Linked DNA regions of Homo sapiens. The protein of the gene in region 1 interacts with the protein of each later gene in a pairwise test. Each region holds a gene or a part of one and is shown in the gene's direction. Other genes may lie near its edges. The genes, in order: IFT81, TRAF3IP1, HUNK and EXOC1.

Region 1 (7,772 bases):
GCTCATTAAGAGAGTTGAACATTTGAAGAAAAGGGTAAGGCAGAATTAGTACTGTAAGACTTTGGCCCCAAGTCCCAAGGACTTGCAAAGATTTAGGAATGCAAATAAAGATTCAGCCAAGCATGAGTGTACATCTGAGGATGGACTCAAATAACATTGACGAAAAGGGAATCTCTCTAGACAGTAGCCCAGCACTTTCAAGGACCTGGAGCCTAGAGCTTTACTGTCATCTCTAGGGAGTACTGTTTACCAAAAGGAAATGATAAGTGGATGTCTGAGTCACATGACATGCTAATTTTTTTCTTCAAACCTGACAGTAACATGTACTACTTATTCCCTTACTGTAGGTTGAGACAGCTCAGAATCATCAATGGATGCTTAAAATAGCAAGGCAACTTCGAGTTGAAAAAGAGAGAGAAGAATATCTTGCACAACAGAAACAGGAACAAAAGAATCAGGTATCCACATAAAAGTTTATATTCTCAGTATGAAGGAAATAGTTCCTTCTCATAATCCAAATGTAAAGAAAAGAGTTTTAAAATTGTAGACGTTCACGTTCCTTTTGCTAACATAATGGAATACTCTTTTAATTAAGATAAATATTTCAGGCCGGGTGCAGTGGCTAACACCTGTAATCCCAGCACTTTGGGAGGCTGAGGCGGGCGAATCAGGAGGTCAGGAGTTCAAGACCAGCCTGGCCAGCACAGTGAAACCCTGTCTGTACTAAAAATATAAAAATTAGCTGGGCATGGTGGCACATGCCTGTAGTCCCAGCTACTCCAGAGGCTGAGGCAGGAGAATCACTTGAACCCAGGAAGTGGAGGTTGAGGTGAGCTGAGATCACGCCACCACACTCCAGCTTAGGCAACAGAGTGAGACTTTGTCTGAAAAAAAAAAAAAAAAAAAGATAAATATTTTGTGGCAACAACAATACCACTTTTTGGGTTTTATACTCTGAATTGTATCTATACACTGTCTTTTGGCCTATGCTTACCTCGTGTTGTTCCAACATTACAGAAGAGTCATTGTAATGTTAACAGTAAGATTAACTGCTAATAAAACTTCTAGAATCTCTACAGGATGCTTTTAGATTCCAGGGCTATGAGACCATTCTTTTTATTCCAGTGATCACAGTACCCTCTGCAGTTTACTACAATGGCAAATAAGTCATGAAAAGGCTCAAAATCACCTACACTCCATGTTTTTAAACTTTGCCTTAAAGAAAAATAATTTGCTAAGAAATTATTACTTTTACTTATTAAAAATCTATTTTAAAATCTGAGTAGACTTATACATTAAAATATATTTCACATAAGCTTCATTTACTACTAAATCAGCAGTTTAAATGTTTGATTTTGCTGGCACTTGACTTGGCATCGAAGTAGTTTCACTGCAGCAGTAAGCTGCATCGCCTAAGCCCTGAATGGTTACTTGGCGTTGGTTTGTGATTCTGAAACATCACTATATCAATGTTAACATTACTTGGCCTTAAGAAAACCATGTATAACAAGAAAAATCTGGTGTGTGTGTTTCTTTGATAAGTATTTTTCCTTAAACCGCAAATTCAGTAAATAACTAAAGAAAAATTTGTGAAAACTTCCTTAAAAAATGTATGTGAAAAGGTATTGAGAGAACCAGTTACATTTTGGGTTTAATATGGGAATTTTCCGAGTTCTTATTATTTGTTCCTTTTATATCATAAGAATTATATGGAACTTGTATTTTTCATTGCTTGCCTAAGTGAGAGGTAAGCTTCAGTAGACTAAGCAAGTAATCTATTTAATTGTATTTTAAAGCTATTTCATGCAGTGCAAAGATTGCAAAGAGTACAAAACCAGCTGAAAAGCATGCGCCAAGCTGCAGCAGATGCAAAGCCTGAAAGTAAGTGGAAATTATTATATGGTATAGATGATTAGAAAATATTAATTTAAATCACGATCTTCCTAAAAAATCAATTTGTGAGAATTAGTTATCATCAAGTGATGTCTCAGCATTTTGGAACATCATTTCCTAGCTGGAGAAGGAGAGCCCTGATAAAGACATCCCTGGGTTTTCACCAGATGTTTTTAAAAATTCCTAACCAGATGGCCGGGTGCAGTGGCTCATGCCTATAATCCCAGCACTTTGGGAGCCCGAGGTGGCGAGAGGTCAGGAGTTCGAGACCAGCCTAGCCAACATGGCGAAACCCCATCTCTACTAAACATACAAAAATTAGCAGAGCGTGGTGGTGGGTGCCTGTAATCCCAGCTACTCAGGGGGCTGAGGCAGGAGAATCACTTGAATCTGGGAGGCAGAGGTTGCAGTGAGCCGAGACCGCGCCACTGCAGCCCAGCCTGGGCGACAGAGCGAGACTCCATCTTAACAGCAACAACAAACAATTCCTAACCAGTTTTTCACATCAGAGAGTGAAGATAATGAAAACAACTGTGGAGGGAGGCTGTCTGGTTTGTGCTTGTATAAAGGACTTAGCATGGCTGGGCGTGGTAGCTCACACTTATAATCCCAGCACTTTAGGAGGCTGAGGCGGGTGGATCACTTGAGGTCAGGAGTTCGAGACCAACCTGGCCAACATGGTGAAACCCTGTTTCTACTAAAAGTACAAAAAAATTAGCTGGGCATGATGTCATGTGCCTATAATCTCAGCTACTCAGGATGCTGCGGCAGGAGAATTGCTTGAACCTAGAAGGCAGAGGTTGCAGTGAGCCGAGATCGCGCCATTGTACTGCAGCCTGGGCGACAGACTGAGACTCTGTCTCAAGAAAAATAAATAAATAAATAAATAAATAAAGGACTTAGCATGGACGTTGTGAAAATGATGGTTGGAAAAATTATGAATCATTGTTTTAAAGCCAGGGCTATAAAGAAAAAGAATAGAATGCTGGATCCTTAAAACCGAGTGTTTTTCATATTTTGGTTTGTAGAATAACAGTGCTAATGACGTAGGTATCTCTGGCTCTGTTCTTACATTAGCTTAACACAGAGGATAAACTGTCCTAACAGCCCAGATTACACCACCAGATCCATCCTAGGCATTTTACAAAGCATTTTTGCTTGTCAGAAGAAAGACCACGCAAACTGAAAGAGCAGTGGAAAGCTCTCATTTGTACTGGAGAACTATCCCAATGTAAATAGCTGATAGAGGGTTAATTCATCTTTCTGTAGTAATCTATGAAATTCTACAAGAGCAGGGAGCAGGAGGTTAAGGAGTTCCTACTTCGTTGACATCTTTCTGGGAAGTGGAAAGTGATCTGTTCACAGCCTAGGAAAAGGGTAGATTAAACATATTTAATTGATCCAGGTATTTAGTTTAATAAGCTCTAACTTTTCAGTAACAAAAAAGGCTTACAAAAGCTAATGTTTACTTAAATAACAAAAAGTACTTTTAGTATGACAGTATAATTTGTCTTTTTGCAGAGTAACAGCTATATTATAAAACATTCACTGAGGTTAATCATTTTTTTTTTTTTTTTGAGATGGAGTTCCACTCTTGTTGCCCAGGCTGGAGTGCAGTGGTGCAATCTTAGCTCACCGCAGCCTCCGCCTCCCGGGTTCAAGCGATTCTCCTGCCTCAGCCTCTGGAGTAGCTGGGATTACAGGTGTGTGCCACCACACCCAGCTAATTTTTGTGTTTTTAGTAGAGACGGGGTTTCTCCATGTTGGTCAGGCTGGTCTTGAACTCCCGACCTCAGGTGATCCACCCGCCTCAGCCTCCCAAAGTGTTAGGATTATAGGCGTAAGCCACTGGGCCCGGCTGAGGCTAATCATTGTTATACTCCACACATTTGTGAGATTTATTACATAAAAGAAGACACTCATTTGATTATAGTAGGATCAGTGAGATGTTTTCAAAGGGTTTTTAATATAAAAGTTTGCTGACATCTTAGTGACCTTGTATTTAATTTACCCAGGATTTTGAAAGATAATGCTTTTAAAACTTTTCATAGAAACATATGACTATTTTTCAAGGTCTAAGTTAAATTTTTTAAGAGAGTAATTTAAAATTTGATGGAAACTTGGTTTTTATGTTTTAAACAGCTTTATTGAGGTAAAATCGACATATAATAAACCACACAAACCCTGGTGCAGTGGTTCACACCTGTAATCCCAACATTTTAGGAGGCAAAGGCGAGCAGATCACTTGATCCCAGGAGTTCAAGACCAGCCTGGACAACATGGCAAAACCCTGTCTCTACAAAAAAATACAAAAATTAGCCAGGTGTGGTGGTGCACGCTTGTAGTCCAGCTACTTTGGGAGGCTGAGGTGGGAGGATCACTTGAGCTCAGGAGGTGGAAGTTGCAGTGAACTGAGATTGTGCCACTGCACTCCAGCCTGGGCAACAGAGGGAGACTCTGTCTCAAAAAAAAAAAAAAAAAAAGAAAAGGAAAAAAGAAAAGAAAAAGCTGCATGTATTTGGTATGGTTCAGCGACTCACACCTATAATCATACTCCTTTGGGAGGCCAAGGTAAGAGGATCACTTGAGCCCAGGAGTTTGAGACCAGCCTGGGCAACATAGCAAGAATCTATCTCTACAAAAAATAAAAAATTATTTGGGAGGCCAAGGCGGGTGGATCACAAGGTCAGGAGAGCGAGACCATCCTGGCTAACATGGTGAAACCCTGTCTCTACTAAAAAAATATAAAAAATTAGCCGGGCATGGTGGCGGGTGCCTGTAGTCCCAGCTACTTAGGAGGCTGAGGCAGGAGAATGGCATGAACCCGGGAGGCAGAGCTTGCAGTGAGCTGAGATCACGCCACTGCACTCCAGCCTGGGCGACAGAGTGAGACTCCATCTCAAAATAAACACATACATACATACATACAATAAAATAAAATAAAATAAATAAAATAAAATAAAATAAAATAAAATAAATAAAATAAAATAAAATATAAAATAAAATAAAATAAAATAAAATAAAATAAAATAAAAAATAAAAAATTAGCTGGGCATGGTGGTACATGCCGATAGTCCTAGCTGTCCAGGAGCCTGAGGCAGGAAGATCACTTGAGCCCAAGAGTTTGAGGTTAAAGTGAGCTATGATTGTGCCACTGCACTCCAGCCTAGGTGACAGAGTAAGACTTTGTCTCAATAAATAAATAAGTAGCACATATTTAAAATGTATTAAATTTTTTTTTTTAATTTTACTTTAAGTTTTGGGTTACATGTGCTGAATATGCAGGTTTGCTACATAAGTATACATGTGCCATGGTGGTTTGCTGCACCTATCAACCTGTCATCTAGGTTTTAAGCTCCGCACACATTAAGTATTTGTCTGAATGCTCTTCCCCTTTCCTCCCATGCCCTAAAGTGTATCCTTGATTACTTTTGACATACGCATACACTGGTGAAACCATCAGCTTTTAATCAAGATCACAAACCTATCCATCACCCCAGACATTTCCACTGACCCTTTTTAATGTCTCACTCTTGCCCCCTTCTGCCTTTCTGTCCCTCCCCAGGCAACCATGGATTTGCTTTCTGTCACTATAAATCAGTTTATATTTGCTAGAATTAGAAACTTTTTTTTAAATAGAGAAAATATTATTTGAGAATTTTAAATCTTTAAAAACATTTTAGTCTTTGATTCCATGCATCTCTAATTACATGGGGTACACTTAAGAACCTGAGGATGGAAAAGCTGGTCATCTAACAGACAAAGAAGTCAGGATGTAGATTTAATCGAAAACCACATAGGAATGACTGACTAATTACAGTGTGATTTATTTATTTTTATTGTTTATTTACTTATTTATTTATTTTTTGAGATGGAGTTTCACTCCTGTTGCCCAGGCTGGAGTGCAATGGCGTGATCTTGGCTCACTGCAACCTCCGCCTCCCAGGTTCAAGCCATTCTCCTGCCTCAGCCTCCCAAGTAGCTGGGATTACAGGCATATGCCACCACGCCCGGCTAATTTTGTATATTTTTTTAGTAGAGACGGGGTTTCTCCATGTTGGTCAAGCTGGTCTCAAACTCCTGACCTCAGGTGATCCGCCCGCCTCAGCCTCCCAAAGTGCTGGGATTACAGGCATGAGCCACCACGCCTGGCCTATTTTTTATTTTCTGAGACGGAGTTTTGCTCTTGTTGCCCAGGCTAGAGTGCAATGGCATGATCTTGGCTCACCGCAACCTCTGCCTCCCGGGTTCAAACGAATCTCCTACCTCAAGCATCTCTACAGCCTCCAGAGTAGCTGGGATTACAGGCATGGGTCACCATGCCCGGCTAATTTTTTGTATATTTAGTAGAGATGGGGTTTCTCCATGTTGGTCAGGCTGGTCTCAAACTCCCAACCTCAGGTGATTCGCCTGCCTTGGCCTCTCAAAGTGCTGGGATTACAGGTGTGAGACACCACGCCCAGCCTACAGTGTGATTTATTAAACACTTTCTCTTCTCTTCCTTTCTCTAATCCTGAAAAAAGAAGGAATAGTGAAGTAATGAATGGAAAACTTAGAATTTGCAGTTAATAAAATTTTACATGTTAATATATGGTTAGCACGATGGAACTAAAAATAGTTTTAAGGCTTTGGGCCAGATGTATTATGCTTTGGGCCAGATGTATTATGCAATCTATTACACAGATTACTTAAACCAGAAAGCCCATGTGTTAAAAATTTGAGCCAGGCCAGACGAAGTGGCTCACGCATGTAATCCCAGCACTTTGGGAGGCCCAGGCAGGCGGATCACTTGAGGTCAGGAGTTGCAGACCAGCCTGGCCTTAACATGGTGAAACCCTGTCTCTACTAAAAATACAAAAAATTAGCCGAGCTGGTAGTGTGCGACTAATTCCAGCTACTCAGGAGGCTGAGGCAGGAGAATCGCTTGAACCCAGGAGGCAGACAGAGGATGCAGTGAACCCAGAATGCACCACTGCACTCCAGCCTGAGTGACAGAGCAAGATTTCATCTAAAACAAAAAACAAAAAACATTCAAGTCAGAATTTGTAAATGTGTAAATGGAAAGATATGAAATAAACTTTGTAAATCTCTCTAGGCTGGGAATTTAAAACAAGATGGTTATTCACTGAAAATCTGTGTGTATAGTTGTCCAACTGCAAAAATAAGAAAACTAAAATCTTAAAAATATAAATTGCCACTTAACTGTAAACTAATAATACTTTACAAAATAAAAAATACCAAAACATGGAAAACTTAAAACATTTATGTGTAGGTAGATACTTTGTTTCTTTTTTCTTTTGTTTTTTTGAGACAGAGTCTCCCTCTATCCCCCAGGCTGGAGTGCAGTGATGGTGACACGATCTTGGCTCAGTGCATCCTCTTCCTCCCAGGTTCAAGCGATCCTTGTTCCTCAGCCTCCCAAGTAGCTGAGACTACAGGCATGTGCCACCATGCCCGGCTAATTTTTGTATTGTTAGTAGAGACAGGGTTTTGCCATGTTGCCCAGGCTGCTCTCGAACTCTAGACCTAGGTGATCCACCCACCTCGGCCTCCCAAAGTGCTGGAATTACAGGCGTGAGCCACTGCACCTGGCCTGTTACTCTTTTTTAGATTTTAACTTGTGGTGCTTTTAGTAATGTCTTCATTGGCTTGAAGCTGACAAATGATAATGAATTATCATTTATGAACTGTTATAATAGAAATATAAATTGTTCTGGGTACAGTGTAATCCCAGAACTTTGAGAGGCTGGGATCACACCTGTAATCCCAGCACTTTGAGAGGCTGAGGCAGGTGACTGCTCAAGCCCAGGAGTTAGAGACCAGCCTGGGCAACATGGCAAAACCTCGTCTCTACAAAAAAAAATACAAAAATTACCTAG
Region 2 (7,772 bases), on another chromosome or scaffold:
TATTTTGTTTTAGATTTGGGGGTACATGGGCATGCTTGTTAATGGGTAGGGACTTGGCTTCTCGTGTACCCATCACCCAGTAGTGAATGTTGCACCCAGTGGGTAATTTTTCAACCCTCCCCCTCCCAACCCTCCCGCATTTTGGAGTACTCAGTGTCTATTATTTCCATCTTCATTTTTTAAATTTTATTTTAAGATATTTTAAAAATAATACTTTTGGCCGGGTGCAGTGGCTCACATCTGTAATCCCAGCACTTTGGGAGGCCAAGGTGGGTAGATCACTTGAGGTCAGGAGTTCAAGACCAGCCTGACCAACATGGTGAAACCCCATCTCTACTAAAAATACAGAAATTAGCCAGATGTGGTAGCAGGCACCTGTAATCTCAACTACTTGGGAGGCTGAGGCAGAAGAATCTCTTGAACCTGGGAGGTGGAGGTTGCAATGAGCTGAGATTGCACCACTGTACTCCAGCCTGGGTGACAGAGTGAGACTCCATCTCAAATAATAATAATAATAATAATAATAATAATAGTAATAATTCTCTTGAAGGATTGCAGTTGAAATTCAAATAAATCTCTAAGGTCAATAATGTGTATTTATATGACTTATAATCAATAACTATAAATTTAAAAATCACTAGAAGTGCAAATGCCCATGTTTCTGAGGACAAGTGTGTGTGTGGTAAAATGCAAATAAAATAGTCCCAGAAATAACTGTTCGCTTGAGAAATCTTGGAAGCATTTTCTGAAAAGTGTGTGCGCACGTGAGCACATGAAGTGGCCCAACGCTGAGCTGCCTTGCCAGAGGCCTTCCTGCCAGAAGGCAGCTGAGTAAACAGTCTTTAGCCCGCAGGAAAAGGGAGGCCAGCCAGGTAGGAGGCAGGAGGGGACAAGAGGGGTGACTTTGTGTCCCCTTGAAACACACGTGGGCTGCCACCTCTCTGTTTGCCTAACTTGGAGAAACTGCCTTTAGACACTGGATCCATGGTGAGGGTGCCACAAAAAGGTGCCGTGGGTGGTTCTGCGATGTTCACAGCAGACTTCCTCTGAGCTCAGGATCACCAACCTTTCAGCGGAGAAAAGAGCTTTGAGATGAATTTCATAGCTGTGGGTTATTTATATTCTTAAAATGGAGATGGAGAAGGAAGTGTGTCGATGAGGAAGGTAAATTACATTTTAATGAAAGAACTTGCCTGGACATGACAGCTTGTTAGGTGGTGCTGATAATATCTATAAATACTTTTTTCACTGTGCGCTAAAGTATTCCAAACATGCCTGGCTAAGAATGTTTCATAGCCAACAAGTTGACAGGAGGTAAAATAACTGTATCAGTGCACAGGAAAAAGCACCCATGCCTTGTCCTGGGGGCACTTGCAACTTGCTTCTTTCTGGGGAATAAATTTACGATAATGGTTAACATCTACTTGAGGGTTTACTATGTGTGAGGCACTGAACTGCTTACTTTATATTATCCCATTTAATGTTACCTGAAGGATAAATATTATTATTTCCATTTTCTTGTGAGGAAGCTGAGGTACAGAGAGGTCATTCCAAGGTCATAAAGTTAGGAGGTGGTGAGGCTGGGTTGTACCAGCCCCTGGAACCACAAGGCACTGACTGCGGGTCCTGCTGCCCCCGAATCCTCCTATGGTCTAGGTGGTTTTAGGTCATATTTTGTGTAATGACAGATTTCCTTTCCTTTTCTTTTCTTTTTTCTTTTTTGAGAAAAAAGGGTTTCGCTCTGTTGCCCAGGCTGGAGTACAGTGGCACAGTCTTGGCTCACTGCAACCTTCTCCTCCTGGGCTCAGGCAATCCTCCCTGCTTAGCCTCCTGAGGAGCTGGGACTACAGGTGTGCACCACCACGCCTTGGTAATTTTTGTATTTTTTTTGTAGAGGCAGGGTTTCACCATGTTGGCCAGGCTGGTCTCAAATTTCTGGCCTCAAGTGATCTGCCCACCTCAGCCTCCCAAATTGCTGGGATTACCGGCATGAGCCAACACACCCAGCCATGACAGATTTTCAATAATTAACACAGCAGGGGCAGTCATCTAATTCCTGTGTGGGGGTAATAGATCCTCAAACTACTATTGGATTAAAAGTCTTTAAAAACAAGGTTGTTTTTATCTGGAAAATTGTTGATATATCTACATGAGCAACATATAACTCGAGGTCTGTCATCAGAGAGGTGTGCTTTTTAAAGCAAATAATCACGGCTTGATGCGTTCACGCTGCCCCTGCTGTGTTAAATGAAAGCTTGAAAATTGCCAGAGTGTTGGTGTTTTGCAGCAATGTATTCCAGTGCCTTTATGCTAATAATAAAACCTGTCCTGACTATCACAATCCCAGCCCAAGTGTACTTATTTTAAAGTCTTAATCTCTTAAACATAAATTATAAGCTTTAAGATTAGTGTTCCAAATTCTGCTTGGTCCTGTGCAATAGAAATATGAGGAGTTTGGCCAGATTACCTCTTAGTGTCTTTTTCTACATTGTAACTCTCCAATTTTGTAAGATATTTGTTTATATTAGTCTCCTACCTTAAGGTCCATGCCCTAAACATTTTTATATTAGAGTTAACACGATGCCAAATGCACAGGAATTACTTGATAGTCATTATGAATGGGTTTTAATAGAAGTTTGAATTTCTTAACTAAGTCAATGAGACATTTACTAATTTGTGTATAATAAAGACAATATATTTTTCTCTTGGGAAGTAGCTTATTTTATTGAATTCATTTCAGTCATTTAGCGTCTTAATTTAAAGGCATTTTATATAGCCTTTTAGAAATTAAACGTTTGATATAACCATAGATTCATATCCAGTTATAAGAAATAATAGACGCCCAGGTGTGGTGGCACGTGCCTGTAGCCCCAGCTACTTTGGCAGGCTGAGGCAGGAGAATCGCTTGAGCCCAGGAGTTTGCGTTCAGCCTGGGCAACACAGTGAAACCCTGTAAAGAAAAAATAGTAGAAAAAGAAATAATAGAGATATACTGTATGCCTTTTGCCCACTTTCCCCCAGTGATAACATCTTACAGAACCATAGTACATTGTCAACCAGGATATTGACAATGAAACAGGATCCAGAACATTTGTATCACCTCAAAGATCCCTCTTGTTGCCTTTTTATAGCCACACCCTCTTCCCCCACCTCGAACTCTTCCTTCACCCCCAGCTACCACCATCAGTTCTCCATTTCTGTAACTTTGTCTTTCCAGAATCTTGTGTAAAAGGAATCCTACAGCATGTAACCTCTTGGGATTCACTTTTCTTATTCCTAATCCTCTGAGGGCCATCCAGTTTGTTCCATGGATTAGCAGTCTGTTCCTTTTTTTTTTTTCTTGAGACGGAGTTTTGCTCTTGTTGCCCAGGCTGGAGTGCAATGGCGTGATCTCGGCTCACTGCAACCTCGCCCCCCCACCCGGGTTCAAGGGATTCTTCTGCCTCAGCCTCCCGAGTAGCTGGGATTACAGGCATGCGCCACCGCGCCCAGCTAACTTTGTATTTTTAGTATAGATGGGGTTTTGCCATGTTGGTCAGGCTGGTCTCGAACTCCTGACCTCAGGTGATCTGCCTGCCTCAGCCTCCCAAAGTGCTGGGATTGCAGGCATGAGCCACCATGCCTGGCCAGTCTGTTCCTTTTTATTGGTAGATAGTTTTCCCTGGTGTGGATGCACCACAGTTTAGTTAACCAATTACCTATCGAAGGACACGGGGGTTGTTTCCAGTTTGTGGCTACTTTGATTAAAGCATCCGCATGCATTTGTATACAGGTTTTTCTATAAACATGAATTTTCATTTGTTTGGATAAGTGTCCAGGAGTACAACTGTTGGTTGATACTGTAGTTGCATGTTTAGTTTTATAGGAAACTGCCAAACTGTGTTCCAGAGTGGCCATATCTTTTTACATTCCTGTCAGCAATGAGTGATCCAGTTTTCCCTAACCAGCATTTGGTGTTGTCACTATTTTTTATTTTAGCCATTCTGATTGTTGTGTGGTGATGGCTCATTGTGGTTTGAATTCGCATTTCCCTAATGCCTAATGATTTCAAACATATTTTCATGTGTGTGTTGGCCATCCTTATATCTTCTTCAGTGAAATGTGTCTTTTGCCCATTTTCTAATTGAATTATTTGCTTTCTTGCTGTTGTGTTTTAAGAGTTCTTTGCATATTCTAGCTATAAGTCCTTTATTGGATGTGTGATTTGCAGTTGTTTTTGCTCATTCTGTGACTTACCTTTGCGGCTTCTTCCCAGGGTCTTTCGCAGAGCAAACATTTGAAATTTTTGTCATGCTTTTGGTGTCAAGTCTTCGAACTCTTTGCCTAGTCCTAGATCCCAAAGACTTTTTCCTCCTGTGTTTTTTATCTTAAAGTTTTATAGATTATATTTAAATCCATAGTCCATTTCGAGTTAATTTTTGTTTAAGATATGAGATTAGGTCAACGTTTTGTTTGTTTTTTGGCTTATGGATGTCCACTTAACCCAGTGCCAAATGGTGCAAAGCTCTCTCTGCCACTAAATTGCTTTTGTACCTTTGTCAAAGATTGCTTGGGCATATGGACATATTCGTATGGATCTACTTTTGGATTCTGTGTTCTGTTCATTTGATCTATGTCCCTCTGTCAATACTGCACTGTCTTGATTACTGTAATTGTATAAAAAGACTTGAAGCCTACGCGGTGGCTCACACCTGTAATCCCAGCACTTTGGGAGGCCGAGATGGGAGGATCACCTTAGCTCAGGAGTTTGACACCAACCTGGCCAACATGGTGAAATCCCATGTCTACTAAAACAAAAATTAGCTGGGCATGCTGGTGTGCGCCTGTGATCCCAGCTACTTGGGAGGCCGAGGCAGGAGAATCGCTTGAATCTGGGAGGCAGAGGTTGCAATGAGCCAAGATCACACAACTGCACTCCAGCCTGGGCGACAGAGTGAGACTCCGTTTCAAAAAAAAGCCTTGAAATTGGGTAGACTGGTTATTTCTGTCTTTATTCTTTTTCTGAAAATGTTTTAGCTATTGTAGTTCCTTTGCCTTTCTGTATACATTTTAGGATAATCTTGTCTATACAAAAACATTGGCTGCAAGTTTGGTAGGATTTGCATTAAACATGCGTATCGGTTTGGGGAAAATTCATGTCTTTACTGTGTCCTGTCTTCCATTCCATGGACACAGTGTGTCTTCTCATTTATTTAGATTTCCTTTGATTTCTTTCATCTGCATTGTTTCGTTTTCCATTTCCAAGTCCTATACATGTTTTGTTAGATTTACAACTAAGGATAGTCTTCTATTGAACAATTGTCAATGGCATTGTATTTTTAATTGCAGTGTCCATGTTTTCATTGCTCATACATAGAAATATAGTTGATTTTCATATGCTCATCTTGTATACTACAACCTTGCTGAACTCACTTATTAGTTGTATGAGTTTTACGTTTTACTTAAAGTCCCAATTATTTAACACTTTCTATGTGCCAGGCATTATGCTAAAGCTTTCTTGTACTTGTCCAAGCCAGTAAATGGTGGAACTAGGATCTTCATACATAAATCATTTATCCACTTCATTAGTTCATTTCACAAATTCTTAGGCAGAGCTTATGTGAATCACAGTGAATCTAGGCACAAGGTCCTGCCCTCCTGAGCCCACAGTCTGAAACTAGCAGAAGTAATGCAAGTGAATATGTAGCTATGATACGTTCAAATTAAATAAGTTGATTTGTTACAACTGAGTGCATTTACTAGCTCATTCTGTAAGTGGGTGAGGCAAGGAAGGGCCCCTTACCGGTCTGGAGTGGGTGGGGGGGTGTCCAGGGAGGGCTTCCTAAAGAAACAGTGTTGCAGGGCATGATGGCTTACATCTGTAATCCCAGCGCTTTGGGAGGGCAAGGCAGGAGGATCACTTGAGCCCAGGAGTTTGAGAGTAGCCTGGGCAACATAGTGAGACCCTGGCTGTAAAGAAAGAGAGAGAGAAGAAAGAAAGGGAAGAAGATAACCATCTGATCTTTGACAAACCTGACAAAAACAAGCAATGGGGAAATGTTTCCCTATTTAATAAATGGTGCTGGGAAAACTGGCTAGCCATATGTAGAAAGCTGAAATTGGATCCCTTCCTTACACCTTATACAAAAATCAATTCAAAATGGATTAAAGACTACATGTTAGACCTAAAACCATAAAAACCCTAGAAGAAAACCTAGGCAATACCATTCAGGACATAGACATGGGCAAGGACTTCATGTCTAAAACACCAAAAGCAATGGCAACAAAAGCCAAAATTGACAAATGGGATCTAATTAAACTAAAGAGCTTCTGCACAGCAAAAGAAACTACCATCAGGGTGAACAGGCAACCTACAAAATTAGAGAAAATTTTCGCAACCTTCTCATCTGACAAAGGGCTAATATCCAGAATCTACAATGAACTCAAACAAATTTACAAAAAAAAAACAACCCCATCAAAAAGTGGGCAAAGGATATGAACACACACTTCTCAAAAGAAGACATTTACGCAGCCAAAAAACACATGAAAAAATGCTTATCATCACTGGCCATCAGAGATATGCAAATCAAAACCACAATGAGATACCATCTCACACCAGTTAGAATGGCGATCATTAAAAAATCAGGAAACAACAGGTGCTGGAGAGGATGTGGAGAAATAGGAACACTTTTACACTGTTGGTGGGACTGTAAACTAGTTCAACCATTGGGGAAGTCAGTGTGGCGATTCCTCAGGGATCTAGAACTAGAAATACCATTTGACCCAGCCATCCCATTACTGGGTATATACCCAAAGGATTATAAATCATGCTGCTATAAAGATACATGCACACGTATGTTTATTGCGGCACTATTCACAATAGCAAAGACTTGGAACCAACCCAAATGTCCAACAACGATAGACTGGATTAAGAAAATGTGGCATATATACACCATGGAATACTATGCAGCCATTAAAAATGATGAGTTCATGTCCTTTGTAGGGACATGGATGAAACTAGAAACCATCATTCTCAGCAAACTGTCGCAAGGACAAAAAACCAAACACTGCATGTTCTCACTCATAGGTGGGAATTGAACAATGAGAACACATGGACACAGGAAGGGGAACATCACAATCCGGGGCCTGTTGTGGGGTGGGGGGAGGGGGGAGGGATAGCATTAGGAGATATACCTAATGTTAAATGACGAGTTAATGGGTGCAGCACACCAACATGGCACATGTATACATATGTAACAAACCTGCACATTGTGTACATGTACCCTAAAACTTAAAGTATAATAATAATAAAAAAATTAAAAAAAAAAAGGAAAGAAGGAGAAAGAACTGATGTTAATTTTCCCAAGCTTATTGATTCTTATCAACTCACATCAGTTTCTGACATTCAGAGATGTCTGTGATCAAAGCTCATATGAAGAGAATTCTAAATGTTGCATGGCAAAGAACCCAAGAACTCCTGGCCCAAACCGCATGCAGCTCCCCACTCGTCTCTGCGTCCTCCTCACCTCCTTCACCTGCTGCTGTCTCAACTTGACCCCTTCCATCTGGCCCCTGACCCCTGGACTCTGTGGCCTCCCTGAGCGGCCAGCACAGTCACGTCTAAGTCGACCTGACCATCTGCCTGCTGGGTGCTGCTGGCTGCTGCTGGCTGCTGCTGGCGCTGGCTGCCCTGCACATTCTCCATGCCCTCCTTTCCATGGCACCAGTTTCTGCCTCTCCTTTGGGTTTCTTTCCCCTTGCCCCCTGGCAAGCTGGGTTTTGAAGTCATTTGG
Region 3 (7,772 bases), on another chromosome or scaffold:
TGAAGGGCTAGAGTGAGGAGGAGAGAGAGGCTGCCGGTGAAAGGTGGCGTCATTCCCCACTGCCAAGGAGGGTCTCTCCATGCCTGGAAATGCGTCCCAAAGGGCATCAGATAGATTCCTTATATTTTCAGGGAAGCTATTTGTTCCTTGTGGCTGCTATAACAAATTACCACTCTGGTGGCTTAAAGTAACAAATTGATTCTCTCACAGTTCTGGAGGCCAGAAGTCTTAAAAAGTATTGGCAGGGCCACGCTCCCTCCAGAGACTCTAGGGGAGGATCCTTCCCTGCCTCTTCTGGCTTCCAGTGGCAGCCAACATTCCTTGGCTTGTCGCCCCTCACCCCAATGTCTGCCTCCTTCCTCCTGTGGCTGCCCCCTCTGCTTATTTGTGTGAAAACTCCTTCTTTCTCTATTTTATAAGGACACTTATGAGGACATTTAGGGCCTACCCAGGTAATCTAGGCTAATCTCATCTCAGAATTCTTCACTTAATAACTTCTGCAAAGACCCTTTTTCCAAATAAAGTCACATGATCCAGAGATTAGGCCATTATTCAACCTGGTACAGGCAATTGAAGAACTCAATAAGGTATCTTAACTATAATTGTGTACTCTGTTAAAAAGGCAGATTGTATTACTGCTGGGCCTTTAGACTTGTTTGTTTACAGTACTTGTAAGAATTTCATTGCCAGAGGGTGTAATTTTTTAGATACTGCCACACGGAGTGGAGCAAAGACAATGCCTAATTGTACTTTTCAGCATTCTTTTTTCTCCACCTCCCCAAGAGGATGGATATGAAATATGTGTGTGTCTATGTGTTTTTGGAGGGTAACAGTTAACAAAGCTGTTAGTTTAGCATCCCTTGAACTACTTGGGGCCAGACACAGCCAGAGTGTAACTTTACCTCCTGGGGGCTGAGAGCATCAGCCCGAGCTGACTTGAGGTAGTGCAGGCCCCATGCTGTGAGGTGTGGATGGCAGGGGCTCTTCTAGCCTGTCTGGTCCCCTTGGGGGCTGATTGACTCTTTGTTACTCCCATCTTTGGATTAAGGGCCTGAACCTCCCTATTAAAATGAGACTCTGGGCTGGGCACGGTGGCTCATTCCTATAATCCCCGCACTTGGGGAGGCCAAGGTGGGCGGATCACTTGAGGCCAGGAGTTTGAGACTAGCCTGGCCAACATGGCCAAACCCTGTCTCTACTAAAAATACAAAAATTAGCTGGATGTGGTGGCGGGTGCCTGTAATCCCAGCTACTCAGGAGGCTGAGGCAGGAGAATTGCTTGAACCCGGGAGGCAGAGGTTGCAGGGAGCCGCCAAGATTGTGCCACTGCATTCCAGCCTGGGCCACAGAGCGAGATTCCATCTCAAAAAAAAAAAAAAAAAAAAAAAAAAAAGAAGGAGACACTGCTCTATAGAGGAGATAATACATTATGCTGTTTATAGCCATCTTTGCTTTGGTGATTCCATTGGTTAGTCACTATTAGTCACTTGCTGTTTATGAAGCGCTGTGTGTCGTGAAGGGGGAGTGGTCCCTGCATTAAGCCATGACTTACATCTTACTGCAGATGCTGTTGTATAGGGACGTAGGGAAGGAAGGTGCGGGGGAGTCTCTCTGGTAGGGAGGTTAGCCTCTGAAGGACCTGGGGTTGGGGGCTTGAGTGGGGGAAGGGGGTGGCTGGAGTACCTGGAGAGTGATAGAATGCATGTCCCAGGGAGTGACAAGACATGCCAGGAGGGAGAGCTGGGAGGAGTTGGGACCGGGTGGTGGTGGGGCTGATGGAGAAGATGCTTGGGTGCTCCCATAGGCAGCAGTGAGACCTCAAGAGCTTCTGCAAGAAATCAGAGTTCTAGACCCACTGATTTGGAGGCAGAGTGTAGAATGAATTCAAGAGGCCAGGAGGAGCCTCAAGAAGAGGTGACATCCATGCCTTAGTTCACCCTGGGGGTGGCCAGACTTTTATTGATTCGTTCACTATTTTGTTTAATTTAAAGTTTGCCTTTAGTTTGGACTTTTTCCCTTTTTTGTTTTCTTTTTGTTTTTTAAGGTTTTCTTCAGCTTTATTGAGGTTTAACTGACAGATAACCGCGTGTGCTTATAGTATGCAGGTTATGATAAGTGAGCATGTTGTGAAATGGTTACCATGGTCAAGCTCATGGACATGTCCATTACCTGACAGGGTTATCAGTTTTGTGTGTGTCTTGAGAACATTAAAAAATCTCTCAGCAATTTTCTTTCTTTTTTTTTGAGATGGAGTTTTGTTCTTGTTGCCCAGGCTGGAGTGCAATGGCACAATCTCTGCTCACTGCAACCTCTACCTCCCAGGTTCAAGCGATTCTCCTGCCTCAGCCTCCTGAGTAGCTGGGATTCCAGGCGTCCACCACCACACCCAGCTAATTTTTATATTTTTAGTAGAGACAGGGTTTCGCCATGTTGGCCAGACTGGTCTCGAACCCCTGACCTCAAGTGATCCACCCGCCTTGGCCTCCCAAAGTGCTGGGATTACAGGCACAAGCCACCGTGCCCAGCCTCTTAGCAGTTTTCTTTCTTTTTTTTTGAGACGGAGTTTTGTTCTTGTTGCCCAGTCTGGAGTGCAATGGCACAATCTTGGCTCACTGCAACTTCTACCTCCTGGGTTCAAGCGATTCTCCTGCCTAAGCCTCCCGAGTAGCTGGGATTCCAGGCATCCACCACCACGCCCATCTAATTTTTGTGTTTTTAGTAGAGACAGGGTTTCACCATGTTGGCCGGGCTGGTCTTGAACTCCTGACCTCAAGTAATTCACCCTCCTCGGCCTCCCAAAGTGTTGGGATTACAGGCACGAGCCACCACGCCCGGCCTCTTAGCAGTTTTCAAGTGTGCAATACATTATTGTTAAGCCTGGTCACCATGCTGTACATTGGATCTCAGACTTCTGTTTTTTTCTTTATCATGAACTATGTCCACAAAATAATATTTGAGCCCCTCACTGAAAACATGTATTCATCTGTATTTATTTACTTATTATTTATTTCTGTACTTGTACCTCTGTGTATGGCATATTGCATATAATGCATATTGAGTGCGTTGTGAAACAGGTACAAAATGTAATTACAAAAAAGAGAAATAACAAGAAATGGAAGGTCCACTGACTTCATCCTGCACCCGGAGGCTCCATAGCTGTGTATGAAGGTGTTCCTGGGATGCTCATGTCTCAGTTCATGACAGGGCATCTGGGCACTGGGGCAGTGGTTGGAATGAACCAGGCGGGTGGTGTAGGGGAACAGAGAGGAAGGACAGGTGGCGAGACAGCTGGAAGAAGACATTGACATCATGTGTTGACGTCAGTGGCTGATCACATTAGAGAGGGGAGTGAAGAAAAAAGAAGGAACAGGGCAGCCGGCGTGGTGACTCACGCCTTTGACGCCGGTGCTTTGGGAGGCTGACAAGGAGAATCACTGGAAGCCAGGAGTTCAAGACCAGCCTGGGCCACATGGGGAGATCGGTCTCTACAAAAAGAAAAAAATTAGCCAGCCGTGGTGGTGTGTGCTTATAGTCCCAGCTCCTGGGAGGCTGAGGTGGGAGGATCACTTAAGCCCAGGAGTTTGAGGCTTCAGTGAGCCATGATTGCACCATGTACTCCAGCCTGGGCAACAGAGAGACTCTGTCAAGAAGGAAAGAAAGAGAAAAAGAGAGAGATAGAAGAAGAAAGAAAGGAAGGAAGGAAAGAGGAAGGGGAGGGAGAGAGGGAAGGAGGGAGGAAGGGAGGGAGGAAGGAAGGAAGGAAAGAAGGAAGGAAGGAAGGAAGCGAGGGAGGGAGGGAGGGAGGGAGGGAAGGGAAGGAAAAGGGTGAATACAATGGAGAGGTGACTTCCCCTAAAGGAAAGAGGACTGGGGACAGATGCGGATTTGGGTGGAATAGACAATCTTCCCTTCCCTCTGTTCCTCCATCCTTCCTTCTGTTCTTCCCTCCCTCCCACCGTACCTCTTATGACAAGTTGATTGTAGGGGCAATGGCCCAGGAGGAGCTTCCTGAGGGTAGTAGAAATGTGATCCTGAGTAACAACAAAGGTTGGGTCCTGACAGTGGGGGCCAAGTTTCCCTAGGAGGCAATTCATCAAGGGAAGGAGGTAGACCCTGAGGCTTGAGGGTGTGCACAGGGCAGGGCGGAGCGGGGGCGGGCAAGGCTAGGGGTGCTGCATCTTTGGGCAGTGTCCCCCAACCATGCCTTGGAACTAAGATTGGGGGAAGATTTAGCTGTTTCTGAAGTGGCTGGGGGTCCTCAGACCTGGAGGGAGATGATGGTGAGTCCTGAGGGGGACTGGGACAAGCCCTTTGCTGGAAGAGAAATTGTTATTTCATCTTCCCATCCTGTAGAAAAATAAATTTGACATTAATCCTGCACTGTGCCTTCCAGACAGCCATTCAGGTTTTCTTAGGTAAATTCCATTGTCTTCCTTAATAATTGGACCTTTTGATTTTTCCTAATGTTGTACCTATATGTGTGTGTGTGTGTGTGTTTGTGTGGTATATGCATAAATATAAATGTGTATATATATATTTTCTGTTGATGCTGTTTTAGGTAAGGTGTTTCTCCTCTGCAGAGACATAGCTAGCATTTTTCTTGGGTTCCTGTGAGTAGCCAAGGCATCGCTATTGTCTGTAATGTCTGATAACAGGCATGTTCTTGTTTTCTCCTTAGGTGGCCATAAAAGTCATTGATAAGAAGAGAGCCAAAAAGGACACCTATGTCACCAAAAACCTGCGGCGAGAGGGTCAGATCCAGCAGATGATCCGCCACCCCAATATCACTCAGCTCCTTGATATTTTAGAAACGGAAAACAGCTACTACCTGGTCATGGAGCTGTGCCCTGGGGGCAACCTGATGCACAAGATCTATGAGAAGAAGCGGCTGGAGGAGTCCGAAGCCCGCAGATACATCCGACAGCTCATCTCTGCCGTAGAGCACCTGCACCGGGCCGGGGTGGTCCACAGGTAAGGGCCAGGCCACGCTGGTGATCGCTGACTGTGTGCTCCGTGGGTGGCACTGGGCTGTGGCACCCTCTGAGCCTCTGAGAAAGGCTGAGCAATTGCAGCCTGTTTTACAATTTGTCTATATTTTAATTTTATTTATTTGTTTATTTTTTTGAGACGGAGTTTTGTTCTTGTTGCCCAGGCTGGAGTGCAATGGCGCAGTCATGGCTCACTGCAACCTCCGCCTTGTGGGTTCAAGCGATTTTCCTGCCTCAGCCACCCAAGTAGCTGGGATTACAGGCACCTGCCACAATGCCTGGCTAACTTTGTTGTATTTTTAGTAGAGACGGGGTTTCACCATGTTGGCCAGGCTGGGAATTTTTCTGTATTTTTATTCCATGGAATTGTTTTGTGAATTGGGTTAATGCCAGTGTGAGGGTTAAAAGAGTAGAATCTGAAGCCAGAGTGACTGGGCTTGCAACCTGGCTCTGCCCTGTAACAGTTATGTGACCCTGGGCAAGTTACTTAACCTCTCTGAGCCTTGGTCTCTTAATCTGTAAAATGGGAATAATAATAACACTTCTCTCTCAGTTGGAGTAAAGGTCAATGAGTTAATATATGGGAAGAGCTTGGGACAGTGTTTGTTACCTAGTAGGTATCAGGTAAGTGTTAGCTGCTTTTCTTCTTGTTTGCATAGTCATGAGACCAGTTGTTTAGGTGCCTGAAAGAGCCAGTGTTAAAATGGCATGAGATTCGTGCTAGGGATGATGGTGCTTTCATTGTCTTTGCTTTACACATAGTAGACACTCAATAGCAGTTTTATTCAATGAAATTGAATCACCATTCGAATTTTGAACTTGCCCTTGAAATCAAGGAGTGTTTTCCACAAACCAAACCAGTCTTGCAAATAGTTAGGAAAATCAAGCTTGTTTTTAATATCCTGTTGTTTCCTAGGAAGGGGCTCTACAAAGAAAGTGAATGGAAACAGCGTTCTTGGCAATGTTGCCATTGGTAGTGGGTGCCTGCTTTTAGTACTGTATGAAAATAAAATCAAACAAATTTAAAGAAATAAAAGCTCCCTCTTTTCCTCCAAGGGAGTGTTGGCTTCACCAATAAATGCATGGTTCTTCCTTTGTGGAATTATGATCAATAATTACTCTGGGTTATTGAGAACAACCAGAAATATTTTTTTTTTTTTTTGAGACTGAGTCTCGCTTTGTCGCCCAGGCTGGAGTGCAATGGCGCAATCTTGGCTCACTGCAACCACTTCCCAGGTTCAAGCAATTCTCCTGTGTCACCCACCCTAGTAGCTGGGATTACAGGCATGTGCCACAACGCCCGGCTAATTTTTTATTTTTAGTAGAGATGGGCTTTCTCCATGTTGGTCAGGCTGGTCTTGAACTCCTGACCTCAGGTGATCCGCCCTCCTCGGCCTCCCGAAGTGCTGGGATTACAGGCGTGAGCCACCACGCCCGGCATAGAAATCATTTTTAATTGGTGCTTATTTTAAAAAGCAAGATTGAGGCATGACATATTTATGTGTGTGTATATATATAAACATGCACACACGTGTGCACATGTATGTTTAAATATTTTTAAATTAATAAATTTATATACTATAAAAGTCACCATTTAAAAGTGTATAATCTAGTGTTTTTTAGTGTATTCACAGAGTTGTGCAACCATCACCACCTTCTAATTTTAGAATATTTTTATTACCCCCCGCAAAAGAAACCCTGTACCCATTACCAGTCACTCCCCATTTCCCTCTTCCCCCAGCCCTGGCAACTACTAATTTACTTTCCGTGTCTATGGATTTGCCTATTCTGGCCATTTCATATAAATGGAATTATATAATACCCGGTCTTTTGTGATTGCTTTCTGTCATGTAGCATTATGTTTTTCAGGTTTGTCTAAGTTATAGCATGTGTCAGTGTCTCCTTCCTTTTTATGACTGCATAATACTCCATGTATGGATATACCACAATTGGCTGATCCATTTGAGTTGTTCCCACACTTTGGCTAGTAATACTGCTATGAGCGCTGTTTTCACTTCTCAGAAAACTCCACTCTTAGGAGTGGAATTGCTGGGTCATATGTCAGCTTTCTTTATCCTTTTGAGGAAATATATATTTTAAAAAAATTCAACATTTAATGATAAATCTAATTTTAATTTTAATAATGATAATCTAGCTCTATTTGAAGGCCATTATTCTTTCTTTCTTTCCTTTTTCTTTCTTTCTTCCTTTCTTTCTTTCTCTCTCTCTCTTTCTTTTTTCTTTCTTATTTCTTTATTTCTTTTTTGTTTTTTGTTTTTTTGAGATGGAGTCTCACTCTGTCGCCCAGACTGGAGTGCAGTGGCACAATCTCGGCTCACTGCAACTTCCGCCTTCCGGGTTCAAGAGATTCTACTGCCTCAGCTTCCCAAGTTGCTGGGATTACAGGCACGTGCCATCATGCCTAACTATTTTTTGTATTTTTAGTAGAGATGGGGTTTCACCATGTTGCCCAGGCTGGTCTCAAACTCCTGACCTCAAATGATCCACCCTCCTCAGCCACACCCAAAGTGCTGGGATTACAGGTGTGAGCCGCCGTGCCCAGCCATGAAAGCCATTTATTTTCAGGCCGGGCGCAGTGCTCACGCCTGCAATTCCAGCACTTTGGGAGGCTGAGGCAGGCAGATCACGAGGTCAGGAGATCAAGACCATCCTGGCTAACACAGTGAAACCCCGTCTCTACTAAAAATACAAAAAAATTAGCTGGGCATGGTGGCAGGTGCCTGTAGTGCCAGCTACTCTGGAGGCTGAGGCAGGAGAATGGCA
Region 4 (7,772 bases), on another chromosome or scaffold:
CGTTAGATACGTTTAATGTTCCATTAAACATCAAGGAAATCTTTTTACCCATTAAACTGGTCACAAAATGTCGTTCTGTGTCAGGCCATGACTTGCTTCTGGCAGTCAAACAGCAACAGCAGCGATTCAGTGATTTGCGAGAGCTTTTTGCCCGGAGACTGGCCAGTCACCTCAACAATGTTTTTGTTCAACAGGTAATTTTATTTTATTATTAAAACGAGCATGTTCCTATAGCTTATTTATGTATTAACCTTACATTTCCACAAAAATGTTAATATGTTTAATTGGGGTTGCAGTCAATTCCTTCACATATTTGATTTTAAGATTTTGAAATAGGAGCCTCTTTGCTCATAGATGTACTTTGGGCCTCAGCTGCCTCTTTTGGTAGACAGTCTAGTTCCTTTCAGCTGATGCTCTCTGATTCTAGAAATCAAATAACTATGCATATGAATTGCATATACTACTTAGATATTTTTATTTATAAAGTAAGTCCAAACTTGTTAGATATTTACTATTGGACCTGTTTTATTTTTCAGTATTTTGAGGTGAGACTCAGGACTTGATTCAGTGTTTTAAATGTTTTGTAAGTTCTATGTACTTAGTACATAGTATAATTGTTAAGAAAATGACTAGCTCAACTGCAAATTTCAGTTGATCTAATCTTCATATAAATGCTTTACCTATATTTTTATATGGAAAAGGATGTTATAATTAAGAGTGTGGTAATAATATTGTTATTAATAATATTAAGAGTACCTTTGAGGGATTTGAATAAAAGCCATTTTAATATCTAATACAATAAATTAGGTTTCTTATTTTTTCATCTCTTTTAAAAGTCCCTTTTATTTTATTAGAGTTATAGAATGAAAAAAAATTGGGGGAATATCTCGTTCATCAAGAAATACTGCCTGAAAACAATGGATTTTTACTTTATTTTCACTTTGCAATATTCTAAAACAATTGTATTTACTATATTTTATTTCCAATTAGTTTACTCAGGCCCTCCTTCAACTCTATAACAGGTCCTACTTTCTTTCGGTTCCTGTGAGTACATCAAATTTGGCTCAAGCTTCTCTGATTCTGTTTTTTTTTTTCTATAAAGTTTGCTAAACTTAACAGCAGCCGAATCTTTACAGATTATAACTTACTGATTTAAGCTACCTGTTAACCACATTCGTAGCAGTTTTTAAATGTCCCATAGTAGAGACTATTTTGGCCAAAAAAGCATTTAATCTCATTCTGCTTGCTTTTCTTTCTGTCATTTTTTCACTCCATTTAGTAATAAATAGTAATATTACTCCTTCATTTAGTAATAGTAGTAATATTAATCCTTCATTTATTTAGTATTGCCAGGTGATTGAGGTACATACCAGACATTAACTTGGGATAAATGAGAGACCAATCCTGTCCTCTAGTAGTTCACAGTCTAGGGAAGCGAGACAAACAAATAATATACTCAAGAGGGATAAATGTTATGACAGCGAGACTGTGGGAGTGTAAAGGAAGACCACCTAACTAAAAGCACGGTAGGGGGGAATCAGAGAGATTCCCTTAACATTCCACTTGACTGAAAAGTGTCGAGAAAAAAGTAAGCTTAAATGTCACATAGGAAATACTAATTCATGTTTTTGTTAGGTACTTACTTCAATAACATCTATTTCTATACAATTCCTTAGTTTTTAAAAATGACACTGTTGACAATTATGTTATCCACATTTGTTAGATAGTATTGAAAATACCAGCCAGTAAACAATAGTCTTTTCTGTACCCTTAACTGTTTGTTGTAACATGCAGTTATTTATGATTTTGCTTCTTGCCTTGTAAACTAATGGCCTCGTTTAAAATGAATGCTTCCCATTTCTGAAAAGCTGATATGTGTTATTACATGTGAGTGATGCATGTTAAAAATCAGAACGCTGCGACAACCTGGGGTGTGCCAAAAACGGTGGAAGAAGATATCCCACACATAAGAAAGATTTTCTTAGTGTTGCATTCAGTGCATCAGGTCACCTAGCAAAATTGTTGAGAAACATGGGTATTTCTATTCCTGGTAGGGAGACAAGCTGGGAAAATTGATTAAAATAATATGGTACACCTCTTTGGCAATCACAGAATTTTCATTGTATGCTTATTATGTACTCACTGTCTACCATATATAAGAATAAGCAATAGTTCCTACCCTCAAGATGCTTGTAAGAAGGAATTAAAACTAATGTACTTACTCTTTGTAAGGAGTTAAGACTAATGTACATTAGCAATGTATGTAATAAATTGCTAATTGTAGAACTGTGGACTGTAAGTGCTAAAAAGGTTTAATCAAAAGTGAGTTTATTGAGAATTTAAGGAGTGAGATATGGAAGGAATTGCAGATAAGGTAGGACTTGAACGAGTCCATGCAATACAGTTTATAGCAAATGTATAGTTACAACATTTACAAATATTGTACTGAAGAATCCAGTGAAAATAATCTATTCACAATATAACAGTAATTTCAAAGCATTGATTCTCAGTCTTTTTAAAATTCACAAATTAGTAAAATTAAAAGAAATAAAATTCGGAGACTGACCAAATCACCAATTTTTTTATTTTACCAAATAAAGACCTTTAAAAAGAAATACTATTATCCACTTTCATTATCTTTTCATTTTAAAAATGACATTTTGGCACTAAAAGAATAAGAATTTCCTTTCCGATTTTAAAAATTAATACATTTACCCTTATGAAGGACTCACTTCTTTCATTGTACTTTTTCTTATTGCTATAGGCCAGGAAAAACATCTTGCATTTGGGAATGACTGATCCAGAGCATGCTATCTGTAATGCAACTTTCCTATTAATACTTCTGTGTTATCTATACTTAAGTGAAACTTGAAGTGTATTTTAATATAATAATCACTGTAATATAATATGAGAGTAATGTTACATAAAGAGTAGTTAGCTTCTTTTAGATCTTTCAGATCTTACACACTCAACTTCCCCTGAAATTATAGGCTCTTGCCCATAATTTTTACATTTACTAGGGATTTCTGTATCTAGAAAGATCAAGAATGAGAATCTGGTCAGTTTACACTAATTAGGATTATGATATTGAAAACAGTCAAATTAAGGCTAATGAAATTGAGGAAATATTTGCATAAAGAATATGTCCTTTAAAAAATTGTTTTGGTTGTTTTTTGAAAGATTTATTTTGATAACTACTCTCTGCCTTTTGTTTCCCCCTTTGGTTCTACAGAGACCTCATGATTCTATCTACTTTTGCCTTTAGCAACATGATGAGACTGATTATGTACATAACTTAGAGAAAATGAAAATAAACTGAAATGCACTGAACTAAAAGTACAACCAGGAAAAAACTGAAGTTGTGGAACTTTTTACCATATGCTTAAGTTTAGAAATTTTTCTCTCAACATACATATACAGAAACAAGCTATAATAAAATAAAACCTGTATTGCAGACCACCAGCATTCAATTTCTTTTACAAAAATTGTTTCCTTAAGCATATTTGTAAACACGGATTGATGATCTCTGGTTAAAAGCTTAGAAAGACTTGTGATTAAGATCTATTTTTGTGAGGTTTGTTGGAACTTTGCTCAGATTTTTTTTTTAAGAAAAGAATAAGTAAGTATGCCATAACAGAAAGAAGGAGTTCCAAATCTTGAAAATTTATTCAAATTTTGACCCCAATGTATCATTTCTTTAAAAAAGTCACTATAGCAAAGTGCTTAAGAGTGCAGACACTAGAGCCAAACTTCCTGGGTTCAAAATCCTGACTCTCCTACCTCCTAGCTGGGTTACCTTGAACAAGTTAATTGACATTTGTGCCTGAGTAAACAGTAGTAGAAGAACATAGACAATAATTTTGAGTCTTGAATCATTGAGAAAAATTAATGAGGAAGATTGTTTTGGATAACGATACATTGTTACTAATAAAAACTATTTGGTAAACATTTGTATGATATAAGTCTGTCAAATATTCTTCCCCTTTAATCAGCGTGACCAATTAAGGCACATAGTTTAGGCCAGGCGCAGTGGCTCACACCTGTAATTCCAGCACTTTGGGAGGCTGAAGTGGGCCAATAACTTGAGCCCAGGAGTTTGGGGGCAACCTGGGCAGCATAGTAAGACTCCATCTCTATTAATAAAAATAAATTTTTAAAAAATAAAACACAATTTGGAGACATTTATAGACCTAAAACTATAATATCTATATCTGGCTAGTATCTAATACATGTGATGCTGTAGAATCCTGATTATCCTTCTGGCATCTTGGTTAGAAAACATTTCTGTAATAGAATGTTTATATTGACCTTTGGCAACATAGAAATAGATAATAGTCCAATGGTAATGCCTGTGTATTTTACTTAATATTATTGATTTTGTTCATCTTTATTGTTAGCCCTTACAGAAAAGATATGGTAGCCCAGGCATTCTAAAAATACAGAATTGTTCCATTCTTCAACACTTTAGCTCTTAGTCCTCATTGATTCTTTTGGAAGATGTGATTGTTTTATATTCAGGTAGCCACCCAGAAAAGAATATCCACATAGGTCTACGCTCCGTTATCCAGAATTCTGGGGGTCAGGAGTGTTTTTAGAATGTTTCAGATTTTAGAAAAGCAATACAGTATATATACTGTATATTATATAATCACTCCAAGCACATGTTTTTGCAACAAAAAATATGAATAGTCACTCTAAGCACTATAAATAGGCCCATGTCAGTTCAGGTCACATTTTACCATCAAAATTGTTTTGGTGCCAAGCTTAGTCTGAGTTTTCAGAGCTTTTTGGCTGTCAGAATTACAGAAAGGGATTATGGACCTATTAATATACCTTGTGTATAACATCTGTGGTAGCTGTGAACTTCTGTTGCCCCTGTGTTCTAGTTCTTGTTATTTTGAACTGGTCAGTTTCATTTTGTGATATTTTTCTGCCATCTCTAGTTCAGTTTCCCAAGTTAACCTAAGTAGATATCAGTAAGATGAATCTGAGAAGTGTATTGGTTGTTTTCTACCATTTTATATGTAATTTCTGTATAATGGGTCCTTTTTTCTTTTTAATTTCCATTTTAAATTGGGATATATTCTCACATGAAGAAAATTTTCCAACAGACTGATTTGAAAACATTTATGAAGAAGGGACATGGATAATGATGTGGGTTTTTGTACTTGGCATGTCTTATACTCCCATCTTTCTTTCTCAGTTACCAAGGAACTCCTCATTTCCTCTAGGCCAGAAATGTTTCCTTCTGAATAGTCTGTATTTAAAAGAAAATTTTTTAAAATTCATAACCACTAGGTTATTTTGTGTATATAGTACAGTATATAAATTAGGTGAAAGAAATCCCTTTTAACTTAAAAGAATTTAAATTCAGGACGCTTATTTAGCTAATGTGTACCAACTAGTATGATACACATTCATAATTAGCTTTAGGTAACCTTATCAGGAAATGAGTTAACTAGCTCCAAAACTCTAGCAGTCTGTGTAATTTTAATACAGTTTTCACAAAATGCTGACAAATAACTTCTGGCTATCTAGGCAAATTAGATTGAGTGAAAATTACATCAAATAAATCTGTCTTGGTTTGCCTTTTGCTTGTTGTTGGGAAATTGTATTTTCAATTTGAATCTGCTCCAAGACAGAAGTAAGACTCAGATGACCAAGGTTCCAATTCCAAGCTCTAAGACTTTATATTCTACTTTTTTTTATCTGTTGTTTTAAATATTACAAACTCTAATGGGAATACCATAAATGTAGACTGTTTTGAATGATTTCTCTATTTGTGTTTCTTAATTCAAGCTATATCAAGAAGGTCATTTGCTTGGTAAATTGTGAAATATGGTATGAGAGAGACAAGCTTCATTAAAACGTTCCATCTTCATTCCTTTAAAAGACGGAATGGGTAGTTGATTTATCAGAGTGCCATTCTTGCGTATTTATGATTATCTTATGGTGGTAATGTTCATTTGATATACACAGGATATAAAAGTTGTGTAAGTATTTGGTTTTTATTTTTCTGTGTTCTATTCTTAATTATTTTTCTATGTCTTATTGGTTTGGCTTGGCCACATTTTGGTCATTGTTTAGACTTTTTATTGTAACGTTTCTTTGTACTGTTGATTACATTTATTTACTTATTTTACTCACTTTAGGGTCATGATCAGAGTTCGACTCTTGCCCAACACTCTGTTGAACTGACTTTACCCAATCATCATCCATTTCATAGAGATTTGCTCCGATATGCCAAGCTGATGGAGTGGCTAAAGAGTACAGATTATGGAAAATATGAAGGACTAACAAAGGTATGGATTTGACGTCATTTACTCACTGAGAATAGAGCATTATCTTTTAGAATTAAGAGGTCATGTGTTCAGTTCCCCAAGTTTAAAATACTGTAGTACATTCTTAGCAAAGCAGAAAATGAGTCAGTGCTCTTTACCAGTGATAACATTCATTTTATTAACTTGGATAAAGGAGAGCTAAATTTTAAACTTCAGTATGGAAAAATATTAAGCCATACTGTAGCCTAAAGCATCAATTTAGTTAAATGCTATGCTTATTTCCTGAGTTTCTTTATGTACAGTATAGAAACAAGGAAGTATGAGCATTGCAAGTGAGGTATTTGCCCTCTGTGGATTTATAATCTGTTCTGTTAAGGAAATATAAAGTGCCTCTTTATTAAGCAAGCATTCCACTATTCCAGGCACCTGGGGCCTACCTAATAAGCATCTACTCTAATGCGCTTTAGATCTGACTGGGAAGAATCATACATAAAACAATCAGCAAAAAATTAAACACTAAACTGGAAATGAATTTTAAGCATGTGGCAGTATAGACAAGGAAAATCTCTGTCTCGAGACCATGGGGGAAACTTCATGGACAATATCAGACTTCAGTTGATTTTAAATAATGAGTGCAATTAAATAAACCAGAAATAAGAGAAAGGGCATTCCAGGGATGGGGAGAGAGATGTGCAGACAAAGGTGGGAAAAATACACGCTTGTCCTAGAACAATGAGGTTAAGGGTGACCGAAGCAGAAATTTCCTATTCTAGGGCAGTGAGAAATTATGTTGAAAAAGATGAGCTATGGGACCTACCAGCATTCCTCAAGCATGGGAAAAGATTAAATGAGGGAAATTTAATTAAGAACCTAAAGTAATAATTCAGACGAAATGAAGTGTTGAGCCAGGAAGATGGTGTTGGGAATAGATAGAGAATATAAACCAAAAGAGAGACTCCAACAGCAGAAGGAACAGGTTGATGCCAAACTTGCTGGGCTTGGAGTTTAGAACAGTAGTATATACTGCTGACTAAAATTCTGCACTTGGGGAAGAGCAAAGTCATTTATTCATATATTCAATCAGTAAATGAATTGAGCACCTATTACGTGCTAACACTTGTAAGCACTTAGAGATACAGCATTGAAGGAAACAGGCAAATACTTGCCTTCTCAGAGTACGTATTCTAGAGGAGACAGACAGACAAAAAAGTTAATTATATAGTATGTTAAAAGGTGCTGCTGAGTGTTCTAGAGAAAATAAAGCAGGGAATGCCAGGACTGGGAGAAGGGCGTGGGATAAGGATTTCCAGAGGAGAGCTTTCCAGGCACAGTGCAAGTGCCCTAAGGCAGAGCGTTCCTATTGTGCTTGCAGAGCAGGGAGGCCAGTGTGGTAGGAGCACTGTGAGCCAGGGGCAGACCCTGGTGGGGGCAGGGTGGATCTGGAAGGGATTGTGGACCATGCAAAGATTTGTCTTTTACTGTGCATGACAT

Evidence for each region.
Region 2: the proteins of IFT81 (region 1) and TRAF3IP1 interact in a two-hybrid assay, tested with the Homo sapiens proteins (one large-scale study listed by IntAct).
Region 3: the proteins of IFT81 (region 1) and HUNK interact in a two-hybrid assay, tested with the Homo sapiens proteins (one large-scale study listed by BioGRID and IntAct).
Region 4: the proteins of IFT81 (region 1) and EXOC1 interact in a two-hybrid assay, tested with the Homo sapiens proteins (one large-scale study listed by IntAct).

What each region holds. Positions count from the first base shown.
Region 1 is NC_000012.12:110,134,980-110,142,751, forward strand, and holds part of IFT81 (intraflagellar transport protein 81 homolog), read left to right. Parts: coding exon 1-34; intron 35-347; coding exon 348-458; intron 459-1,796; coding exon 1,797-1,881; intron 1,882-7,772. UniProt on the Homo sapiens protein: Component of the intraflagellar transport (IFT) complex B: together with IFT74, forms a tubulin-binding module that specifically mediates transport of tubulin within the cilium. Binds tubulin via its CH (calponin-homology)-like region.
Region 2 is NC_000002.12:238,389,248-238,397,019, forward strand, and holds part of TRAF3IP1 (TRAF3-interacting protein 1), read left to right. Parts: intron 1-7,772.
Region 3 is NC_000021.9:31,919,790-31,927,561, forward strand, and holds part of HUNK (hormonally up-regulated neu tumor-associated kinase), read left to right. Parts: intron 1-4,678; coding exon 4,679-4,971; intron 4,972-7,772.
Region 4 is NC_000004.12:55,871,765-55,879,536, forward strand, and holds part of EXOC1 (exocyst complex component 1), read left to right. Parts: intron 1-84; coding exon 85-194; intron 195-990; coding exon of another isoform or gene 991-1,044; intron 1,045-6,152; coding exon 6,153-6,302; intron 6,303-7,772.